Regions from separate parts of the Homo sapiens genome. Here region 1 is linked to region 2. Evidence: fine-mapped QTL for protein levels in blood plasma. A gene starts in region 2. The other region holds a variant in brackets. All regions are shown on one strand. Distances are between the middles of the regions.

Region 1 (3,024 bases), 25 kb before region 2:
CCTCCCTTTACGAAGACAGGGATGATGGTGGCACACATTCACTGAGGACCTACAGTGGGCCAGGTGCTATTCTAAGCACTTCATACGTGTTTCTCTCACTCAAGCCCCATAACTACCCCATGAAGTAGTCACTATGGTTACCATCGCCATCTCTATTTTACAGATCAAGGAACTGAGGCTAAGAGAGGTTGGGTGACCTGCTCAAGGCCACGGAGGAAGAAAGTTACAGGCTTTGGACTTCTTTCTGTGGTTCTGAGCCTGCACTCTGAAACCTATGCAGCACTGCCTCCTGGTTCTACTTCTCCTTTTGCAGGCTTGCAGCAAAGCTTAATTTAAAGAGAGCACTCCAAAGGTGCATGTTAACAGTAGGCATCACTGGTGTGGTCACCACTGAATGACTGACCCTCTTTGCTTAGCTCTGTCTTGAAATGGGAATTTTTTTAACTGGTTTGAACCCTTAAGAACTAGTTTGACTTGGTTTGACCTTGGTCTTAGACATCATAGGGCTGAATGAAAAGATCAGGGGATGAAAAAGACAAGTGCCCAAGGCATTCCTATTATGCCGTCATTATTATAAATGGTGGCATAGCCCAACGAACTCACAACTCGCCCCACAGCTCTCTTTTGGAAAAGGCTATCCCTTCCACACTCCAGCAGCCTCACAGTGGCTGGCAGGCCCTTGCGGTTTTACCTCCAAAGGACCATACACCCCACCCACCCACGGCAGGATTGAGTGTCTAGAGACAAGCAGTGATAAAACAGTGAAGGTTGTTTACTGTGCTTGTGAATTGATGGACACTCTACACAGATTAACTCACTCCTCAAAGAGCCCTGTGAAGTACCTCAAGTATTATGAACCCATTTTACAGAAAAGGCAAATGAGGCCTGAAAAGGTTATGTTATTTGCTGCCCACAGCAGTAAGGGGCTGAGTAGCTGTGGCAGCCCAGGCTATCTGGCTGGAGAAGCCACCCTATAACCCCAAACAAAGCCCTGCAAATAGCAAGTGGAATGTAGAGGAAACCAAAAAGGCATCTCTTTGTTTCAAAGCCTTTTGTAGATAATTTCTTCAAAGTTCAGGATTCCGGGATTTGCATCACTTTATCTGCAATGATAATGACATTAAATGCATGACTGATTTTACGTCTATGCCTTTCTTGAAACACTTCAGAGAAAAACATTCTCAAATCAGAAAAAAAAAGAGGTTTTGGCAGATCATGCACTCCCCAGTATACTTTCGGCAAATAGGGTCACTGTAATTATCACCAATCTTGTCTGAGGGTCCTGTCCTTAGCTATTAGGGCTATGAGATGCCGAAGCGGGGACAGGGGCCCCTGGGTGTGGTCTCAGTCTGACTGACACTGACTTTGACAAGGTGAACCTGGCCACCCTGAAGTCCCAGATTCCTGGCTCACCACACAGTTCATCCAAACTCCATGCCAAAAAGCACATTGAAGTCTTTCAACTTGATTGCCTTGAGTGGGGTTCGAGATGGTTTTAGATACCACCAGGAATCGCTGTGCCATTGTTCTTTCTTTTCTTGGGAAAATTATGCCA[A/G]TGAGAGCAACACAATTCACTCATCTATTTATTGCCTTTGTGTCCAAAGACGAACACAAATTAAGTCAAACTGAACAGTCCTGGCAGAAGTTCTGGAAGTTAAGGATTCTCAGACAATTCTAATTCAATGCAGTTTGAAAACAGATACAGATGCTTCTTGACTTACAATGGAGTTATGTACTGATATACCCCCTACAAGCTGAGAATATCTTAAGTCAAAATGCACTGAACACAGTTAACCTACTGAACACCATACCTTAGCCGAGCCTACCTTAACTGTGCTCAGAACACTTACATTAGCCTAGAGTTGGGCAAAGTCATCTAACACAAAGCCTATTTTATAATAAAATATTGAATGTGTCGTGTAATTTGATTACCATACTGAAAGTGAAAAACAGAATGGTTGGATGGGAACTTGAAGTACAGTTTCTACAGAATGCATGTTGCTTCTGCACCAGCGTAAAGTCTAACAATCTTAAGTTGACCATCGTAAGTCGGGGTCCATCTACACATACGTGGATATAAAACATCCAGTGCTTACTGACCACCTACTATTCCTTAGGGCTGCTCCGACTGCTCTGCACTTATGATTTCAGTCACGCCCCACAACAGCATGTAGTAGCCCCATTTTACAGATGAGGAAACTGAGGCTCAGAGATAGGAAGAAATTAACCCCAGTGTCGCCCAGCTGGGAGGTGCAGAGCTGGGGTTTGCAGCCAGTCTGCTGGCTCAAGAGCTTCGGTCACATGCTAGTGTGACAGGGAAAGGGTAGGGGCCATGAAAGAAGGAGCCGGGCAGGGGGAAGATGTGAGGAGCTCTCAGTCAGGCCCAGGTGCTGGGGCTGCTTCCTGGGGCAGGTCGTCCATGCGGGTGAGAGGCGCTTACAGGGAGAAGGGGACTGGGGCAGGAGCCAGGATCAGGGCTGGGGTGCCACACTCACCTGCTTGCCGGCGCTGCTTGACGCACTGCCCACGGTTGGGGATACCTTCGGCCACGTCACCTGGGCTCAGGATGTGGCACTCATAGCCCGAGGGACAGAGCAGGGGTTCGGCCCCATCCTCCGTGGTGCTGCACGCCTCTGCTGCAGGAGGGACACACGCTGGGGTCTAGAAGGCCGACTCCCAGGACAGGTGCACATGCTAGGGTCTAGAAGGCAGACTCCCGGGACGGGTGCAGGGAACGCACCTCACCCAGAGAGGCGGCCTCGCCTCTGTACCCCAGGTTCCAGGCTAGGCCCTGGGTCTCACTCAGCGGCATGTGGCACACGTGCACACCCACAAACACGCACACAAACACAGGCAGTCCAAGCTCACCTGATCCCAAACATACTCTCACAGGCTCAGCAACATCCATATAGACATGTTCACGGATACACCCTGAAACACACACTCAGCCCTACAGTCGCATGGGGACACAGACATTTACACAAGCAAGTCAGACGCACAAATACACACAGACATATACGCACG
Region 2 (2,500 bases):
CTGCCCTACCCCAAGGAACCTACATGCTACCCTGTTAGGCAACACCAAACAAAGTCACAATTATTTGATTGAAAGCTGCCAAGATGCACTGCCAGCTTGCTATGTTGCAAAGACGTTCTACATACTGAGACATTCAATCCTCACACAGGTGCTGTGGGTGCCAGCATTACCTTCTTGAGCCCTCTGTGTGCTGATATCGTCCTGGCTCACTCCGTCCCTGCGGATCTGTGATCTCTGGGGGGTGGGAGGAACCAAAAATGATAGCCTCCTCCACCCCATTCTCTCTCCTAGTTCCCTTCCTGCTTTATTGCTTCCTCAGCACTTGCAATCTGCACATACTAATAAATGAGATCTCTCTCATTTATTCTTTGCTGCCCCCAGCCCCCCATTGAGTTCCCCAGGCAGAGATGTGAGGCCTGTATCCCCACAGCCTAGGACAGTACCTGGTAAACAGTGGCGACCCAGACATAGTTGTGTGAAGAAATGCATCCCTCTGTCTTTTGCAGATGAGATTGCTGGGGTTCAGAGACGTCAAGCAGCTTGCCTGAGAGAAGCCACGCAGCTAATGAGCAGCAGAGCCCGATTCACACCCAGACATCTGGCCCCAGGGCATGTGTTTCTTGCCACTCACTGCCTCATGCCTTCTCTTTGTACTGCCATCGTTTGTCACCCAACTGCCTCTGCACCTCGGCCACGCCACCCTTGAGGATGGGGGCTGGTACCTCCTTTATCTTGTATCCACAGGACCCCACAGAGTGCCTTCCCCAGAGCGGTTTCTGCTAAATTCTGTTTAACAGAGTGTATTCATTCTGTTTGCTGAATGAATAAACAACCACATGAATGCATAAGTGTATTTCACAAACATTTGGTACTGATCAGGGAGACGGAATGCTCCGTTTAAATCCTGGGGTTCCGAAATGAGATGCTGTCTTTCAGGAGCAAGCATACTTTTGTAACAAGGCAAAAGTAAGGCACGATTCTTTGGCACATTTGTGATGTGTCTTTTGCCTCTTGATTCACAGATAAGGGTCCTTTTTTGGGGGTGAGCCCCATCTGCCCACCACACAACTCAGACACACACGGATAGGAAGACGCCTGCCTTGCCACGTTTTGGGGGAGCACTTACAGGAGAAGGCAGTGTCTAGGGATCGCCTCTCCTCAAGGCTGACTCCCACCCACACAGGCTGCCCCAGCCTCCCCATCCCAGGCACTTACACGGGATTTCTCGGCCAGCCTCGCAGGCAATGCCCGTTTCCAGATATTCTTGGCAGAGCCGGCGTGGAGGAGAAGTAGCAAGAGGCACAGAGCCCGGATGATCTGCCTCCTGCAGCTGCCCGGCCCCACGCCGGTTAAAGGCATTTCCTCCCTGGGCAGCGACCTTCCAGACGCACACAGAAGAGGGGCCCCCCTCGCTGCGTGGGCCTGTGAGTGGGGACAGGAGCGTGCACAGTCTGCTGGACTTTCTTAGTTCCACCCAGCAGGGTCCCTCGGATCATGTGTCCGCGTCCAGCACATGCCCCTTCCTCGATGGTGGCTGGCCTGCCCGGTTATTTTTAGCTTGCCCTATAACATCTGGCCCCAGACGCTCCAACCAGGGCGTCTGCAGCCCAGGCAGCTCAGTGGGCGGTGGCAGCAGGAGGAGGGGGCACCGGCTTGCTTGGAGACGTGGCCGGGAGTGGCCTGTCACTCTCCACTCTCCATAATGAGCACTTCCTTGCAGGCTGGGGCGGTCTCCTCCCAAGGAGGTGTGCTTGACACAGGGCTCGGGGCTGGACATGCAGGGGAGTGCAGCCGGATGGGTGGGGGCTCGGCTGCTACCTTGTTCACATTTCGAGCTGGGCTGACAAACTATCTGCCTATAAAAGCTTCTTTGAAAGAGGCTGCTGGACTGGCACTGGCCAAGGGTGCAGCCATGAAGAGACGACTTCCACCCTTGCACCCGCCGGGGTCCTCCTGCCTGATGTGGGCATGTGGGTAGTTCCTCATAGCGTGTGTTTCCTGTGAGATTTAAAAGAAATTGAGCACATAAAGCATTTCACACACATAAGTGTGCTGTCACTGTCAGCCGGTGTATCTGCACATGTGCATTTATGTGTATGCGTGTGTGCACGTGGGTGTGCATGTGCACGTGTGTGTTTTACAGGAATGTAGCACAGCGGGCTCAACATTTCACAAACTTCATATTCCCTTGTCTGTTCTCAGCACTTCCAAGACAGATACTGGTTTTTTGTTTTGTTTTGTTTTTCGAGACGGGTCTTGCTCTGTCACCCACGCTGGAGTGCAGTGGTGTGATCACAGATCACTACAACCTCTGCCTCCCGGGTTCAAGCGATTCTCCTGTCTCGGCCTTCCAAGTAGCTGGGATAACAGGCATGTGCCACCATGCCTGGCTAATTTTTGTATTTTTAGTGGAGACTGGGTTTCACCATGCTGGCCAGGCTGGTCTCAAACTCCTGACCTTAAGTGATCTGCCCGCCTCAGCCTCCCAAAGTGCTGGTAT

Alleles and levels. Alleles are on the strand shown, and positions count from the first base shown. The strength of an association depends on the size of the effect and on how common the allele is.
For the plasma level of the protein whose gene starts at base 1,453 in region 2, A is the high allele of the variant in region 1 and G is the other (weak association).

What was found. PIP is the chance, under the fine-mapping model, that this variant and not a neighbour inherited with it causes the effect. The UK Biobank Pharma Proteomics Project read protein levels with antibody pairs (Olink). The fine-mapping took linkage between variants from a reference panel, not from the people measured, so its PIPs are less certain.
Region 1: its variant is fine-mapped to the plasma level of the WFDC1 protein (UK Biobank, PIP above 0.99).

Annotation. Positions count from the first base shown.
Region 1 is chr16:84,319,043-84,322,066 of GRCh38, reverse strand. It overlaps WFDC1 (WAP four-disulfide core domain 1), which reads right to left. Exons shown (of 7, transcript NM_021197.4): 4 at 2,496-2,636. Among named protein-coding and RNA genes, the nearest start is that of WFDC1, 26 kb to the right of the region's middle. RefSeq lists an enhancer at 2,081-2,602. The variant A/G (reference allele first, on the strand shown) is at 1,556.
Region 2 is chr16:84,293,831-84,296,330 of GRCh38, reverse strand. WFDC1 (WAP four-disulfide core domain 1) reads right to left here and starts at 1,453. Exons shown (of 7, transcript NM_021197.4): 1 at 1,216-1,453. The coding sequence starts at 1,359. LOC124903734 reads right to left here. Exons shown (of 6, transcript XM_047435022.1): 6 at 1,493-1,998. The coding sequence ends at 1,493.